Linked DNA regions of Homo sapiens: region 1 is linked to region 2. The links come from fine-mapping of genetic effects on gene expression. A gene starts in region 2. The other region holds a variant in brackets. All regions are shown on one strand. Distances are between the middles of the regions.

Region 1 (9,171 bases), 49 kb after region 2:
GAATGAGAACCTTTTATTCGAACCCTTCCTGCTCAGAGCAGATATGAGGGCAGAAAGAGGAGGGGCTCGCCCCCAGGGCCACACAGGGTCTAGAGTAGGCCAGGGATGGGAGTTACTTCTGGGGTCCTAGTCACTCCGGAGCCGCCCTCACTCTAGTCCCCTTTGTAAAAAGGAGATAGACATTGACTGATTCACTGACAACCTCAACCAAGTCCCCAGGAAGAGGAGGGAGAAACCCAGAGATGTTACGACATCTTTCCGGGGTTATCTTGCCACCAGGGTCCAGGCACCGATGTGGCCCTGCCCAGCTCTTGGCAAACGTCAGGCAGGGGTGGGGCCGCCTCCACGACCTGGCACTGTCTCTCCTCTGCAGGCTGTGCATGCAGCACGTGGAGGGCCACAGGCAGAGGCTGGCCGAGCTGGTGCTCAGGGGCATGGACTCAGAAGTCCTGAGCTGCCGCATCAGCAGCACAGCGGTCTGCGTGGAAATGAGGCACCGGGTGTGGGCGGGGTGCAAGCGGAGGGGATGGGGTCCCTGGATTCTTCTGGGGATGGCTTGTCTCCAAGGCATGGGAGTCGGGGGGACAGGCGAGCGCCCCTCCTCTGAGTGCTCATTCTCTCATCTGCTCCTTCATTCATTCATCACATGAGTAGTGCAGGGCAGGCCCTGCTGGAAAGACAGGCTGAGCCCTGCAGCATTGCAGTTAACTGATGTGTGACCCAGGCAAGTACAGTGACCCAGGGGACCCAGGGAGGGCACCTGGGTTCTCGCTGGGGCAGGCTTCCTGCAGGAGGACTCAGAGAGGCCGAGGGGCTTTGCTAGGTGGGAAGGCAGGGCCCAGCGACCCTATCTCAGAGTGAGTGTTGGAGCGTCCTGAGGGCAATGATGCCCAATGCACCCTAGGAACCAACCACAGCCCAGGCCAGAGGCCGGCCAGTGTTTTCTGTAAAGGACTGCAGAGTAAATTTTTGGCTTTGTGGCCAACTAAGCTGTAGCAGGAAAACAGCCACAGCCAATAAGTCAACCAGTGGGCATGACGGTGTCAACAAAACCTTATTGATGGACACTGGAATTTAAACTTCATGGAATTTTCATGTGCCATAGAATTTTCTTTTCTATATTTCTTTTCCCCAACACTTAAAAATGGGAAAATGAGTTTTGGCAGTGGGCTGTACAAAAGCTCCTGGAAGTACAAGACCAGTCTGGGAGGTACTCACCAAGCTTTTATAGGTTCTTCAGGCCCCTCCCTGTGTTCAGGCCTCTGTAAATCTTCAAAATGAGGATGGGAAGGAGAAGTGCTCCCTCGTTGTCTCACCCAGGACCTGTCCTTTGATGTGCCTGAGTTTGGAATTTTCAGCGGCTGGAAGCCACACAGGGCCAGGCGCAGGTGCTGGAATCCGAGGGCCTGGTTAAGAGCCTCCGCTCAGTTGCTGATTGGCTGGAGATGAAGTTACTTAGCGTCTCTGAGCTTCAAGCTCTCCATCTGCCCAACTGGGGAAAGCAGTGCCTTCTTTTCAGGGCTTTGGTGAGAGCTAAATGAGATAGACCGTGTATGCATTGCTTGCTTGGGAGGTAAGTGCTCATTAAATGCTAGCTAATTATGGCAGTTTAAAAATTAGGTTCAGCTTTTTTGGTTCCATATGAATTTTAAAATAATTTTTTTCTAATTCTGTGAAGAATGTCAATGGTAGTTTAATGGGAATAGCATTGAATCTATACATTACTTTGGGCAGTATGGTCATTTGCATGATACTGATTCTTCCTATCCATGAGCATGGAATATTTTTCCATTTGTTTGTGTACTCTCTGGTTTCTTTGAGCAGAGGTTTGTAGTTCTCCTTTGAAGAGGCCCCTCACTTCCCTTGTTAACTATATTCCTAGGTATTTTATTCTCTTTGTAGCAATTGTGAATGGGAGTTCATGATTTGGCTCTCTGCTTGCCTGTTGTTAGTGTGTAGGAATGCTTGTGACTTCTGCAGATTGATTTTGTATCCTGAGACTTTGTTGAAGTTGTTTATCAGCTTAAGAAGTTTTTGGGCTGAGACAATGGGGTTTTCTAGATATAGGATCATGTCATCTGCAAACAAAGACATTTTTACTTCCTCCCTTCCTATTTGAATACGCTTTATTTCTTTCTCTTGCCTGATTGCCCTGGCCGGAACTTCCAATACTATGTTGAGTAGGAGTGGTGAGAGAGGGCATCCTTGTCTTGTGCCGATTTTCAAAGGGAATGCTTCCGGCTTTTGCCCATTCAGTATGATATTGGTTGTGGGTTTGTCATAAATGGCTCTTATTATTTTGAGGTACTTCAATACCTAGTTTGTTGGGAGTTTTTAACATGAAGGGATGTTGAATTTTATTGAAGGCCTTTTCTGCACCTATTGAGATAATCATGTGGTTTTGTCTTTAGGTCTGTTTATGTGATGAATTACGTTTATTGATTTACATATGTTGAACTAGCCTTGCATCCTGGGAATGAAGGCTACTTGATCGTGGTGGATGAGCTTTTTGATATGCTGCTGGATTCAGTTTGCCAGTATTTTATTGAGAATTTTTGCATCGATGTTCATCAGGGATATTGGCCTGAAGTTTTCTTTTTTTTGTTGTATCTCTGCCTGGTTTTGGTATCAGGATGATGCTGACCTCATAGAATGAGTTAGGGAGGTGTCCTTCCTTTTCAATGGTTTGGAATAGTTTCAGAAGAAATGGTATAAACACCTCTTTGTGTTTCTTTTTCCTTTTTTTTTTTTTTTTTTTTTTGAGACAGGGTCTTGCTCTGTCGCCAGGCTGGAGTGCAATGGCGTGATCTCAGCTCACTGCAACCTCCACCTCCCGGGTTCAAGCAATTCTCCTGCCTCAGCCTTTCGAGTAGCTGGGACTGTAGGCATGTGCCACCACACCCAGCTAATTTTTGTATTTTTAGTAGAGATAGGGTTTCACCATGTTGGCCAGGATGGTCTCGATCTCTTGACCTTGTGATTTGCCCGCCTCGGCCTCCCAAAGTGCTGGGATTACAGGCGTGAGCCACCACGCCCGACCACCTCTTTGTATTTCTTGTAGAATTCAGCCTGTATAGCCAAGACAATTCTAAGCAAAAAGAACAAAGCTGGAGGCATCACCCTACTGGACTTCAAACTATACTATAAGGCTACAGTAACCAAAACAGCATGGTACTGGTACAAAAACAGATACACAGACCAATGGAACAGAATAGAGAACTCAGAAATAAGATGGCACATCTACAGGCAACTGATCTTGGACAAACCTGACAAAAACAAGCAATGGGGAAAGGATTCCATATTTAAAAAATAGTGCTGGGAGAACTGGCTATCCATTTGCAGAAAATTGAAACTGGACCCCTTTCTCACACATTATGCAAAAATTAACTCAAGATGGATTAAAGACTTAAATGTAAAACCCAAAACTATAAAAACCCTAGAAGAAAATCTAGGCAATACCATTCAGGACATGGGCATGGACAAACATTTCATGATAAAATCACCAACAGCAATTGCAACAAAAGCAAAAATTGACAATTGGGATCTAATTAAACTAAGGAGCTTCTGCACAGCAAAAGAGACTATCATCAGAGTGAACAGGCAACCTACAGAGTTGAAGAAAATCTTTGCAATTTATCCATTCAAAAAAGGTCTAATATCCAGAATCTACAAGGAACTCAAACAAATTTACAAGAAAAAAACAAACAATCCTATTAGAAAGTGGGCAAAGGACATGAACAGACCCTTCTCAAAGAAGACACTCATGCAGCGAATAAACATATGAAAAAAAGCTAAATATCACTGATCATTAGGTAAATGCAAATCAAAACCACAAGGAGATACCATATCATGCCAGTCAGAATGGCCATTATTAAAAAGTCAAGAAACAACAGATGCTGGCAAGGTTGCAGAGAAATAGGAACACTTTTACACTGTTGGTGGGAATGTAAATTAGTTCAACCATTGTGGAAGACGGTGTGGTGATTCCTCAAAGATCTAGAACCAAAAATACCATCTGACCCAGCAATCCCATTACTGGGCATATACCCAAAGGAATATAATCATTCTATTACAAAGATATATGCATGTGTATGTTCATTGTAGCACTATTCACAATAACAAAGACATGGAATCAACCCAAATGCCCATCAATGATACACTGGATAAAGAAAATGAGGTACATATACACCATGGAATACTATGCAGCCATAAAAAGGAATGAGATCATGTCCTTTGCAGGGACATGGATGAAGCTGGAAGTCATTATCCTCAGCAAACTAATACAGGAACAGAAACCAAACACCACATGTTCTCACTTATAAGTGGGAGCTGAACAATGAGATCACATGGACACAGGGAGAGGACCAACACACACTGGGCCTGTTGGGAGTGGGGTGGGGGAAGAGAGAGTATTAGGAAAAACAGCTAATGCATGCTGGGCTTAATAACTCGGTGATGGGTCGATAGGTGCAGCAAACCACTATGACACACGTCTACCTATGTAACAAGCTTGCACTTCCTGCACATGTACCCCAGAACTAAAAATAAAAATTAAAAAAAAAATTAGGTTCAGGTTTAAGAAGCAAGCTATTTAAATTCTTCAAATTTGATAGGGATGGATTATAAATGATTTTTTTTTAATGCTTGCTGACAATAGTGTGGGGGCTTTACTCTTCAGGAATTTTCCCTGAAGAGCATTTAAAATAGGTTGTGATCGTTGTATTCACTGCTCTACCTGGCCCTGAATAGGTGCTCAGTATATGTTTAAATGAATGGAAGTGCTGTAGGAAGCTCCTGTGATTGCTGATGTTGGTGTCTGGGACAGGCTGGAGGTGGACTGAGGTGGAGACAAAACATTTGGAAGCTTAGAGCAACTGCGCCTAATGGGGGTTTAAGGAACTAGATGTGGGGATAGTCAATAGATGCTCATTTCTCCTGTCCCTGGACTCACCAATTTGGTGTTTAGTTTTCAGGCCTCTTTCAAACATACTCAGGTACTTGCATGCACACATGTACACACATGTACACACATGCATGCACCCACACGCATACCAGTGAGGTTTTGGCACTCAGAATACTAGGCCATTAGTAATTCTCCTGAAAGTGAAATTCATGTTTTTTGTGCCTTTCTGTTCAGATGCAGGTGGGCGTGGCTCTTGCATTTGGCAGTGGCTGTTATGTTACCTGAAAAAATAAATGACGAATTTATATATATACGTAACACTTATCTAGCATTCCCCCCATATTTCCTTATTAAATCCCCACACAGACCCTGAGGCAGGTACTAGCATCACCC[G/A]CTTTTTATAGAGAGGAAACGGAGGCTCTCAGAGCCCCTCCCCTCCTGTCCACAGAGCCACCAATCTGCATTACCTCTCCTCCCACGTCCCACCTTGCTGCTGAGAAATGAGCCCGCCCTGGGGATAACTGCCCAATGTCCTCCCTTCCAGTTCATGAGCGGCCCAGTTCTGTACCAGGAGAAGCTGCTGAAGCCGGCAGCTTTGCTGCTGGAGAAGGGTGCCGACCAGGAGGAAGACGAGGCCCTGCGGGTGCTGTCCCTGCGCGCCCTCGGCAACATGGCCCTGGGCGCCCCCAAGAAGGTACTGTGCCTGGCCCTGGGCCCAGGTCCCGGGAGCTGAGGGTGCAGGCCGGGTGCCCTGGTCAGCCTGGGAGGGAGGGTGCAGGCTGAGGGCTGCCCATGCCCCTCCAGGTGAAGCAGTACCGGAAGGTCTTGCTGGAGAAGTGCCTGGGCCCCCTGAGGGAGCCCGTGAGCAACAGCGTGACTGCCGAGGGCATGGAGGCCCTGACCAAGATCCTGGCTGAGCTCCGGGAAGGGGATGTGGGGTCCTCTTTCGACGCCATGTCTGAGCAGTGCAGGATCTTCTTCGACAACGTGAGTCCGATGAGAGCCTCCCTGAGCTTGCTCAGTGAAGGAGGGGCACTTCTCAGACCCTAAGGAAGAGATGGGCTCTAGAGCAGAAAAGAGCCGAGGCTCCTGCTGGGTGTCAGTTTAGCGACTGGCTGATCACGGGATCTTGTGAAGTAAAAGGTATTCTTCTAAGTTCCAGAGAATCAGTGCTGTCAAGTGACGGCTCCTGGGCCTCTGCAGCCCTGCTAGGAGGGAAGGGTCTCCCCCTTTTATTCCTTGCAGCTACAAATACCCCCAGGGCACCTGTGTCACCCTGGGCCTCTGCTAGGCAGGGCTGTGCACTCAGATCCTGCACAAGCCCTCACCCAGGGAAGAGGCGGGCACAAAGACCAGAGCAATGCCCAGCCCCTTGAGGGCTACGTGATCCCTGCCAAAGGAGAGACTACACCCTGACGGAATGATCCAGAAGGCTCTGCAGGGACCAAGGCATTGGGTATTCCTTGGAGAATGGCTGGGGTTTTGCTGGGCTTCCTGCTGCCTGCATGTCAGCCTGTGTCCATCCTGGCCACAGGAGAGCGAGCTGCTGCGTCTGAAAGCCTTCATCCTCTTTGGAAAGCTGGCAAGGGTGGTCGGGATGTCCAAGAAGCATTTCTTCAAAGGGGAGGTGAAGAAGGCCTGGATCCCCCTCATGCTGCACTCCCAGGACCCCTGCTCCAATGCAGCCCAAGTAAGATACATCCTGGGCTTTGTGTCCCAGTCTGGGGCCCGCTGTTCCCCGAGGAAACAGGTCCTTGGGTCTGCTGGCTCGGTGAGCTGCAAGCTTTTCTCTGCCTCAGTTGGTTTTCTCTGAGATCCCAGAGGCCACAGCCTGCTCCCTGCTGTCCTCCATCCCTCACACAGGCTGAGGAGAGAGGCCATCCGAGATGACCTGCAAAGCCACCTCACTAAGCAGTCTCAGCCCCGTGTCGGGGGACATGGTGTGGTGGCTGCCTATAGCCCTCCTCTGCCCAAACCCTTTCTTCTAGCAGATTCTGTAACTGGCAGGTCACTTTTGAGTATTAGGACTCAAAATACCCCAAAGTGGTCTTGTCCACTGCCTGCAGGCCCATGTTGGGATGGGAGCGGGCCTGGCTTCTCCCTCTCCACAGCCCAGCTCCTCTGTTGCTTTGGGGCAGGAGGAGAGGGAGAGACAGATTTGTTAGTAAATGTGCCTTCTCATTTGAGTTGCTGCCTCTCAGGCTAACCCCGGCTGGCTGGGGACCTCAGGATCCTCACTCCCTGCATGGCCCATGACCTTGACCGCCCTCTTCTCTCCCTAGTCTCTGCTTACAGACTTGGGGGGTGGGGTCAGGAAGTGGGGAGGTGGCTGATTTGGGGAGGTTCTGCCCCCGCCTAGTAAGCCTTGGGACGCAGCTGGCCTAACATGAAAGAAATGCAATGGTCATTTTCAGCAGGTGCCTTGGACTCCAGCTCTGGGGTCACAGGACAAGTACTGTCACTATGAGGGCAGCAGTTTCCAGGTGGGGTGGAGCGGGTGGCCCAGATGGCCTGGGTGGCCCAGGTGGGATGGCCCAGGTGGCCCAGGTGGGATGGCCCTGGTGGCCCAGGTGGGATGGCCCAGGTGGCCCTTACAGGCAGTGAGGGGGATTGAGATGCACACTCCCTAGACCTGGGCTTTGCACTCACCACCCCAGCTTCTGGACTTTGCCACATCCCTCTGCCACACCATCCCTGGCCACCCTGGGCACAAGGTGTCACTGCCCAGAGGCTCCTTTTCCTTGCCAGTCCTCACCACCCTCTGTCTTCAGCCCACACTGTTCTTCCATGTTTTATCGACAACTGTCCAGTGGGGTGGGGGGGCTTCAGGGAAGGAACCAGGGTGCACCCAGCAATGGTGACCGAGAGTGAGGAAAGGGCTACCGAGACAGAAGCATTTTGTCTTCCTGCCCTGCCGTCTCCAGAAGCTGTGGCCAGCAGGCTTGGTCACAGGCAGATGCTGGTGGACTGGGCCTGGGAGGTGAGGACACGTGCCCAGTCTTGCCTGCTCAAGCCCGGCTCCCGCCTCTGATCCCATGGAGGGCTGGGTCCCAGGCAGGGCTGCTGAGGGCACGAAGGTGCTGGCTGAGGGGGCGGGTGGGGCTGCATCTGCCCCCAAGGGGCTTTCTATAAATGTACCTGCAGCCATGTTCAAGCTGGCAGGGGCCCAGGTCCCAGGTGGCCTCCCAGGAGCCACCAGCCCTGCCTTTCTTTGGCTTGGTGAGGCTTTTCTGGGGCTGCCCTCTGGCTTCCTGCCAGCCTCACCCCTCTGGGGAACCACGTGGCCTGGCTGATGGCTCTGCTGCCGTCCTGTGTCCCTGCAGGCCTGTATGGCTACCATGTTTCAGTGTGTGCACTTCTGGGGCTGGAAGTCCCTGGAGCATCCCTCAGGGCCAAGTGATACCGCTACTGATGACAAGATGACCGTTTTCCAGACAACCATGTGCTCCATCCTGGTGAGGAAGCCAAAGGGGGAACCAGCCCGTCCCAGGTGGCCACACGCTGGCTTGGAGCTGGGGGGTCGAGATTGCCACAGCTCTTTCTTGGGGCCCTATGTTTACCTTCCACACATGCCATGTCGAGACCGGCACTGTGCAGCAGAAATAGAAGGCAAGTCATGTGCCTATTTCAGCTGTCTGATGTTTCTTTTAGTAGGCACATCCAGAAAAGTGCAGAGGTGAAACTAATTTTCATGTATTTTATTTCACTCAAATAACTAAAACATGATCATTTCAACATGTAATCAGTATAAAAACTATTATTGTGATATTTTACAATTTTTGGGGTACCATCTTAAAACCCAGGGGGCACTTTACCTTAATTCAGACCAGCCACACTTGAAGTGCTGCAGGGTTACACATGGCTTGTGGCTACCATGTTGGACAGCACAGGTTCTCTGGTCAGATGGGATATGAAAAATATAACTGGTGGCCAGTGGTCCTTCACTTGCCAGCTACTCACCTGCTGTGTGACGCTGGGATGGGCGCTTGCCCTCTCTGATGCATCTTGGTGATGGGAACACGCTTGATGAATGACAGCCCATTGTCAGGGTCTCATCCTCCAAAGCTGTGTGTATCACTTACTTTTTGCAGACTCGGAAAAAGCCGGCTGTTCTCTACCGCTTCTTGCTAGAAACAATGGCCTATGTTAAAAATAACTTGTCAAGAATCAGAATCGCTGCTTGCAACTTGGCAGGTGAGCAGAGAGACGTCTCCTGACTCAAGATAGACTTTGAAGGCCCTCTAGTCCACCCCGGCACTCGGGGGAAG
Region 2 (9,171 bases):
AACAACAACAACAAAAATCTCACTGGACATCCTAGTAGCTAAGGCTTTCCACATATTCATGATTACTTCTGTTGGAAAGTGCTTTACAACAAATTGCTAGTTGTCTCAGTCTGGGTTCCCCTGAGATGAGGATTCAAGGGCCAGGAGTTTATTTAGGAAGTAAAGGAAACACTGATAGAGGAGTGGCAGAGTGAGAAGGGGTGATGGTCATCCACAGCTGGCTCTCTTGTGGTCAATCGGAGCTTAATCCTGCTGGGTGACTCTGGGAGCCAGTGGAGAAAAGACACCCCAGACTTATCCCAATGAGGAACACGGCTGTTGGGTGCCTGAGTACTTGCCTCGTCAGGGATTGAAACGTACTCCCAGGTAGTAGTAATTTCTCTGCCCTTCCATTAGGCCACAAAGGGGGCTCTGACAGAGAGAGCTGACGAGAAAAAACACACGCCCTTGTCACTGAAGAGGTACACAGGGGATCTGTGTGGGGCACCACCTGCACTGCTACCCTGGACAAATAGCTTAAGAAATCCCCACACTGCATCCCCAAACTTACTATCAGCGTGTGAGGGAGACAGGTTCCCACACCCTCATTAGCACAAAGTACTATCTTGAAAAAGAAAGCCTGTCAGTTTGATAGGAGAAAAGCAGGATCTTGTTTACAATGTGCTTTTATTATTGTTATTATTAGAGATTGTATTTCTTTTCAAGCTGATGAGCCGTCTGTGTTTATTTTTTGGAGGATACCCTTTGCCCACTTTCCTATTGGAGTGTATTACCCTGAGGATTTGGTAAGAGTGCTTATTGCATTCACCAGAATGTCCTTTTTGTCATTTACTGTATTTTCTCTACTTTTTTTTTTTTGCCTTGTTTTACTTTTTTTGTTTTGTATTACAAGCAGAAGTTTTAAATTTGTAAGCTTCAAATTGGAGCTGGGGTGGTGCAGAGCGAAGATTTCAGCTGGTTCCCTGACCCCAGCTCCATCTCCTTCCCTAGGCAGTGGCTGGAACACATTCTGTCCACTATTTCCCTCTCTACATCCTTGAGGCTGTGCAGTCACCCCTCAACTACGTTCACCCTCCTTCAAAGCCCTTCCTGGTCCACCCGGGGACCATCTCCCGGCCTCACTGCCCCTAGCTCCTTGACGCCCCAACCTCTCTCAGGGACCCCAAGTTGCCATGACCTCCAGCCAGCTCATGTTCATTTGCACCTTCGTGTCTGCAGCACTGAGGCACTCTTGTTTACAAGTGAGAGAACCCAACTCGGGATACCTTAAGCATAAACAGTATTTTTGTAAGGAGACAGGCTTCTGACGACGCGAGGCTCATAGCCAGGCCTGCGCTGGGTGGAGCCTCCCCTTCTCACTCCTGTCCCTGTTGGGTCAGAGTGCCAGCTTTCCTCTTCCCTCTCCTCCGGGTCTTTTCGGCCCCTCAGTCCCCATATTCCTCTGCCCTAGCTCCCAAGATCCCACAAGAGACAGACTGGATTCTCTCTGGCCTGGAGTGCCACCTTCCTGAAAGTCAGAATCTGATTGGTCCAGCTGGATCAGGTGTCCTCTCCCTGTCCAATCATCAATGCCGAGAGGGATTACGGAGAGAAAAACATGGCTCCCACCATCCCATTGCTGTGGCTGCTTGGGCCACGGGAGAGGGAACCTTGTGAGCCGGGCAGAATCCACCCTGTAGAGACTGCCTCTGGGTGAGTCATATGGTTTGGCTGTGTCCCCACCCAAATCTCATCTTGAATTGTAATTCCCATTACCCCCATGTGTCATTAGAGGGACCTGGTGGGAAGTGATTTGAATTATGGGGGCAGTTATCTCCATGCTATTTGTGTGATAGTGAGTTCTCACAAGATCTGATGGTTTTATAGGGGGCTTTTCCCCCTCTTGCTCATACTTCCTCTTGCCTGCCACCATGTAAGATGTGCCCTTGCTCCTCCTTCACCTTCTGCCATGATTGTGAGGCCTCCCCAGCCATGTGGAACTGTGAGTCCATGAAACCTCTTTTTCTTTATAAATTACCCAGTCCTGGGTATTTCTTCATAGCAGTATGAAAATGGACTAATACAGTCAGCTTCTGCACAATATTTCCATTTTCCCACATTATGTCTTGGGCCTTTTGTGTATTTAAGCTCACAGGATGCTACGAATAAAGCGTTTTCTTATTTCCTGGGTAGTTCCCATAGAAGTAGTGGTGCAACGTGCCATAGAGTGACAGCACCTAAGAGAAGCTGATTTTGTGAGTGGATTGTGAGTTCAATATTGTTGTCATAATCAGAAAAAAATGTATTTACTTTTTTTTTTTTTTTTTTTGAGACGGAGTCTCACTCTGTTGCCCAGGCTGGAGTGCAGTGGTGTGATCTTGGCTCACTGCAACCTCCGCCTCCTGGGTTCAAGTGATTCTTCCTACCTCACCCTCCTGAGTAGCTGGGATTACAGGCACATGCCACCCCACCACACCCGGCTAATTTTTGTATTTTTTAGTAGAGACAGCGTTTCCCCATGAAAAAAAGTATTTTCAATTTGGAAAGCCAAGCAGAGCCCCCTTCTTCCTCCTTGGTCTCACTGTCTTCATGTCCTCTGTAGATAACATGCTCAGGGGCCTCTTACTTTTGGCCATGGCTTACACACTCGACCTGTGTGTAATTTAAAAATGACCCCTTTCTCCACTCCTCCTGATTGCCATATCCTTCACAATGTGACTTTGCAACTCTTCTCATGAAAAGGAGGAATCTATTTCTCCAGCCTGTGGGTCCTGGCTGGCCTGTGACCTGCCCTGGCTGACAGAGTGTGGCAGGTGATGAGCACTGGTTTCAAGTCTAGGCCTCAAGAAGCCTTCATATTCCCGCTCACTGTCTCAGAACCCTGTCCAGCTGCTATGAGAACAGCCTGGGTGAGCCCTGCTGCACAATGTCCCCATCACCCTAGTCATTTCAGCCAATAGCGAGCCAATGGCCAGCCCTCTAGCTGTCTGAGATACATGGGTGAGACTCTAGTTGTGCTTGGCTGGACAGAGCACAGATCCACAGACCCACGCAGGTGACTCATACACTTGTGAACTATAATAATCGGTTGTTTTCAGTCATTAAGTTTTGAGGTGGTTTGTTACACAGCAATTGCTGACACATTCACTTCTGGCTCTAAATGTATCACTTTTCATGTGTTGAGTCTGAAGACCTTCAGAGGACAGAGATGTGTTCCACCTACCCTATATCCACTGCAGCATGGAAAGCCATGCTTAGCTGCACACAGTAGGCGTGCAGTCTGGGCCTGTGGAATGGACTTGGCAACCACATCACCTCAGTGATCTTTCAAACGGAAAAGAAGGCTCAGTGGGGAGTGGGAGGAGGTAGTGCAGAGGGGCAGTCCTGTGAAAGAAGGGGCATGGGATAGCTGCTTGTGTCTATTTCATGTTGATCAATGTATCTCCAAGTGCAGAACAAGGAATAACGCAGGAATTTTATGAGGAAGAAATGTTGGGCATGATAAGAAAGCTCATTTTCTAACCATCTGAATTCCATGAAGTAGAAAGAGGCTGGTCCTGAGAGTAATGAGCTCCCTCGTATTGGAGGTGTCCAAGCACAGGCTGAGGAACTCCCATTTGGCTGGATGGGCAAACTTGGAGTGGAAATTCCACTTAAGCAACCTTGGCCCTAGATGTCTCTGAGTTTTGTTCCTGTTGTCTTGCAGTGCATAGAAAGATTTCCCAAAGGCCAATATTTCATTGTTGTACCTATGATCTGGATCATCTCTCCTAGCTATAAATGACAGGGAAATCCTTTGGGCTCCACTTTTGGTTTAGGAAATCAGGGTGCCTCCTCTCCTACCTGTCTTTGATGTTCTTTATCTTGTAAGTATTGTGCTAGTGGAAATCCAATTTCTTATCCTGCAAGTCATCCAGTCCCCGGGAAGGAGGAGTGCTCTCCCCAGGGCCTCTCAGTCTGCCCCTCCTCTCCTCTCCAACTGTCCTGACCACACCTCCCCACCCAGGGCTCACATGACTGTGTTCCCCTGGGACTTGGTTGTAAGCCATCCCCACTTCTACCATCTCCCTTTCCCAAACAGGCCCCTGTACTTCAGCACACACATGTGAATAACAGAAATGTTGAATGACAACATGATGTGGAGTTTTCACCCCAGAGCCCTGTGCACTCTTCAAAGACCTGGGTTGATAGAGACTCAGGGAGGCAGTTGGATCTCAAAGTTCCGAGGGTCTGGGATCTAACGGTGATAGTTCTAGTGAAACCCTCCCACCCTTCCAGGAGACCCATTCCTATAAGAAATATGACTGAAGAGCCCAGCTGTCTCACTTTGATAACCAATTCTTCCATTTGCATTTCCATTGATGTGTATTGGGCCAAGAGCAGAGCTTTTTCTTGTGGTTAATATCTGTTTAATCCAGAAGAAGACCCTAAGGAAAGGTCAGTATTTAGGTCCCAGAGTAGCTCTTTAAAATCCTTTAAAGGAAAAGAGAGTATGGGATAGTAAAGGGCCATGGGATGGATCTTTGAGGATCAAGGAACTTGGGACAGGAGGAGAAAGGATCTGAGAGCCTTTCTTCCACCATCTCGACATCTATGTTGGTGTTTCTCAATTTTTAAGAAGCTGTGGATGTTGAGAGAACCCCTTAAAGGAGTTATGAGAGATACTGATATGAATTTCTCATTAGCCATTAATTATCAGTGTGTAGAAGAGAGGGCGAGAGGGCTCTATTAAACTAAGGATATTATCTATTGCTGTGTAACAAATTATCATAAACTCAGTGGCTTAAAAGAACATCCATTGATTATCTCACGGTTCCACTGGCCAGGAGTCTAGGCATGGCTTTCCTTGGTCCTTTGTTTAGGGTCTCAGAGACTGCAGTCCTTTCTGGAGTTCAGCTTCCTCTTCCAAGCTCATGTGCTTATTGGAGAATTCAGTTTCTTATGGTTGTAGGACTGAGGCCCTCAGTTCCTTGCTACGTGGCCCTCACCACAGGCAGTTTGCATCATGGCTGTTTACTTTTCAAGGCCAGTAGAATGTTTCTGTTCAATCTGATAAGAGGGAATCTCATGTGGCATAGTGTGATCATGGGAATGACATCCCACCATCTTTGCCATATGATGTAATCCACTCGAGAGAGGGTCACCCATCACCTTTGCCATATTCTGTTGATTAGAAGGAAGTCACAGGTTCCACCCACACACCCTCAAGGGGATGGCTTTATGGAAGGGTGTGGGTCGTTGGGGTCATCTTAAGGTGTGTGTCACACCCCGTATTTTACAAATTCTGTTGATCTCAAAAGAGCTTGAGGAAGAGATGACTGAAGCCATTACAGAAGCAGCAGTAGCCTCAAGTGAGGAGGTGTCAGAGGAAAGAGACGACCTGGGGCCTCTTGAATTACATGACAGTGGTAAGAATGTCATCCACATTTCTGCTTTCCTGCCCCATCTCAGACACTAACTCTTTGACTGCAGCCCCAGCCTAGGTCTCCCTTTCTCCATCTGCACAGTGGACATCATACCACACATGAAGCTGGAGCTGCGCAGGTGGAGGCAAGGCCAGGGACACAAGGGCACCTCCTGTCATGGTCATTTCCACACTGCACCTGGGTGGCGTTTGTTTTCATAGGTACCTTTCAACAAGTCGTGAACCTTCTGGACATCATTGACAGCGAGTCAGCAAAGACGGACACAACAGGGGCAGGCCTTGACATGCGGAAGACCCTGGCCTCGGTGATAATCATGGAGAAGGCCACCACTGAGCCTTCTGTAGTGATAAACACTCTCATCCGCTGCCTGCAGGTGCCAGAGGTAGGGCCATCTTACCCACTGGGCTCAGCCACCTTTAGCTCTGTGTGCATCCATCCACCACCCAGCACATAGTTACTGACTATCAGAGATGTGATGTGTGGTACTGGGATACAGAGATGGGCAAGACTGTGAGGTGCTTACTCCCTGAGGACCAATTGGGACCTGAGATGTTCATAATTTTTAAAAGTTCCCTTGTCTTCTGACACAGTGGGTTTGGGAGCCATTGTCCTACAGCACATGAGCTGAGTTGCAAAGATGTTGAGCCAGTGGGCATGGGAGAGTAAAGATACACCAGACACAGTGTGCAGGGATGTTTGGCTAGTGGGGAGATGCCTAGCTGGGTTAAGGGGCTGGGGTAGAGGATGTTGGAGGGAGTGATACAAAGTGCAACCAGGGGACCTGGTGGGCTTGTACAGACAAGGTTTGCATCACGTGGTACCAGACAAGGTTTTGGACTAGACAAGGGTTTGGAACAGAGCTGATCCAAACCTTGCTGGGCACCACCCCCAGAGTTTCTGATTCAGTAAGTCTGGGGTGGAGCCTGAGAATCAGCATTTCTAACAAGTTCCCAGGTGATGCCAAGGCTGATCTGGAGAGCCTACTTTGAGAACTGTTGGATTTTAGACTACCCTTTTGTCTTGGAGTGGGTAGCAAAGGGGTGCTATGAGCAGAGGAGCTTATTTATAAAAAGTTTTATTATTTTTGTTGGATTTGGATTTGCATTTGCGTTTTCCCCCTTTTATTTTTAGTTGACACATAACAATTGTACATATTTATAGAATACAAAGTGATATTTCAAAACATATATACAATGTGTAATGACCGAATCAGGGTAATTAGTATATCCAACACTGCAAACATTTATCATTTCTTTGTGTTGCAAGCATTCAAAACTGTTTCTTCTAGTTTTTTGAAAATATACAATCAATCATTGTTGACTATATTCACAACCTACAGTGCTATAGAACACAAGAGCTTATTCCTTCTCTCCAGCTGTAATTTTGTATCTTTTAATCAACTTCTCCCTATCCTCCCCTGCCCTTACCTTTCCCATACCCTAATACCGAAATTCTACTCTTGACTTCTATGAGCTCACCATTTTTATAGCTCCCATATATGAGTGAGAACATGTGGTATTTATCTATCTGTGCCTGACTCATTTCACTTGACATAATGTCCTCCAGTTTTATTCATGTTACGGTAAATGACAGGGTTTCTTTTTTTTATGGTTGAATAATATTCCGTTGTCTGTGTATACCACATTTTCTTTATCCCTTCATACATTGATGGGTACTTACGTTGATTCCATATCTTGGCTATTGTGAATAGTACTGCAATAAACATGAAAATGCAGCTATCTCTTAGATATATTGACTTCCTTTCTTTTGGATACACACCCAGTAGTAGAATTGCTGGATCATACGGTAAATCTAGTTTTACTTTTTTTGAGAAACCTCCATAGAGTTTTCCATAATGGCTGTACTAATTTATAGTCTTACCAACAATGTGTGAGGTTTCCCCTTTCTCCACATCCTTGCTAGCATCTGTTATTTTCTATATTTTGGATAAAAGTCTTTTTAACTGGAGTGAGATAATATCTCATTGTGGTTTTGATTTGCATTTCTCTGATGATTAGTGAGGTTGAGCATTTTTTTATATCCCTGTTGGCCACTTGTATGCCTTCTTTTGAGAAATGTCTGTTCAGATCTTTTGCCCATTTTTAAATTTGATTTTTTTGCTATTGAGTTGTTTGAGCTCCTTGTGTATTCTGGTTATTAATCCCTTGTAGGATGGAGAGATATTCTCCTATTCTGTGGGTTGTCTCTTCGCTTTGTTCACTGTTTCCTTTGCTGTGCATAAGTTTTTTGCTTGACATAATCCCATTTGTCTATTTTTGCTTTTGTTGCCTGTGCTTTTGAGGTCTCACACAAAAAATCTTTGCACAAACCAATTTCCTGGAGCATTTCCCCAATGATTATTTTCTAGTAGTTTCATAGTTTCAGGTCTTGGATTTAAGTCTTTAATCCATTTTGATTTGATTTTTGCATATGGTGAGAGATAGGGGTTTAGTTTCATTCTTCTGCATATGGTTATCCAGTTTTCCCAGCACCATTTATTGAAGAGACTGTCCTTTCACCATTATATGTGCCTAGCACCTTTGTCAAAAATGAGTTGACTGTAAATGCATGGATTGACATCTGGGCTCTCTATTCTGTTCCATTGGTCTATGTGCATGTTTTTATGCCAGTACCATGCTATTTTGGTTACTATGGCTTTAAAGTATATTTTGAAATCAGGTAGTATGATGCCTCCAGCTTTACTCTTTTTGCTCAGGATTGGTTTGTCTGTTTGGAGTCTTATGGTTCCATGTAAAAATTGTCTGTAAAGAATGTCATTGGTATTTTGATAGAGATTTCAATGAATCTCTAAATTGCTTCTGGTAGTATTTTGATAATATTAATTTTTCTATCAGTGAGCATGAAATAGCTTTCCATTTTTTGGTGTCTTCTTCAATTCTTTTCATCAGTGTTTTATAGTTTCCCTTGCATAGATCTTTCACTTCTTTGGTTAAATTTATTCCTAGGTATTTTATATTTTTGTGGCTATTGTAAATGAAATGGATTTCTTGGTTTCTTTTTCAAAATGGGTGAAGTGTTCTGTTGTTTGCCATTTGGCATATACTAATGTTACTGATTTTTGTATGTTAATTTTGTAATCTGCAACTTAACTAAATTTATTTATCAGTTCTAACAGTTTTTGGATGGAGTCTTTGTATTTTTCTAGTATGAGATCGTGTCATCTGTGAACAAGGATAATTTGACTTCTTCCTTTCTATTTTGTATGCCCTTTGTTTCTTTCTCTTGCCTAACTGCTCTGGCCAGGACTTCCAGTATTATGTTGAAGAGCAGTGGTAAAAGTGGGCATTTTTATCTTGTTCCAGATTTTAGGAACAAGGCTTTCGATTTCTTCCATCTGGTACAATGTTAGCTGTGGGTTTGTCATATATGGCTTTTATTATCGTGAGGTATGCTCTTTCTATGCCCAGCTTGTTGAGTTTTTAAAAAATCATAAAGGGCTGCTGAATTTATCAAATACTTTTTTTAGCATATATTGAAATGATCATATGATTGTTGTTCTTGGCTCTGTTAATGTGATGTATCACATTTATTGATTTGTGTGTATTGGACCATCCTTACATCCTTGGGATGAATCCCACTTGATCACGGTGAATGATCTTTTTATTGTGTTGTTGAACTCAGTTTGCTAATATTTTGTTGTGGATTTCTGCATCTATGTTCATCACAGATATTGGCCTGTAGTTTTCTTTTTTTGTTGTGTTCTTGTCTGGTTTTTCTATCAGGGTAATGCTGGCCTTGTAGTATG

Evidence for each region. PIP is the estimated chance that this variant, and not a neighbour inherited with it, causes the effect.
Region 1: its variant is fine-mapped to the expression of MROH2A in sun-exposed skin (GTEx, PIP 0.98). The same link has a PIP of 0.9 or more in esophagus mucosa.

What each region holds. Positions count from the first base shown.
Region 1 is chr2:233,823,183-233,832,353 of GRCh38, forward strand. It overlaps MROH2A (maestro heat like repeat family member 2A), which reads left to right. Exons shown (of 42, transcript NM_001394639.1): 35 at 374-482; 36 at 5,448-5,597; 37 at 5,708-5,890; 38 at 6,438-6,593; 39 at 8,227-8,358; 40 at 8,995-9,097. Among named protein-coding and RNA genes, the nearest start is that of HJURP, 27 kb to the right of the region's middle. RefSeq lists an enhancer at 1-149. The variant G/A (reference allele first, on the strand shown) is at 5,297.
Region 2 is chr2:233,774,066-233,783,236 of GRCh38, forward strand. MROH2A (maestro heat like repeat family member 2A) reads left to right here and starts at 4,265. Exons shown (of 42, transcript NM_001394639.1): 1 at 4,265-4,416; 2 at 5,280-5,387; 3 at 5,606-5,787. The coding sequence starts at 5,294.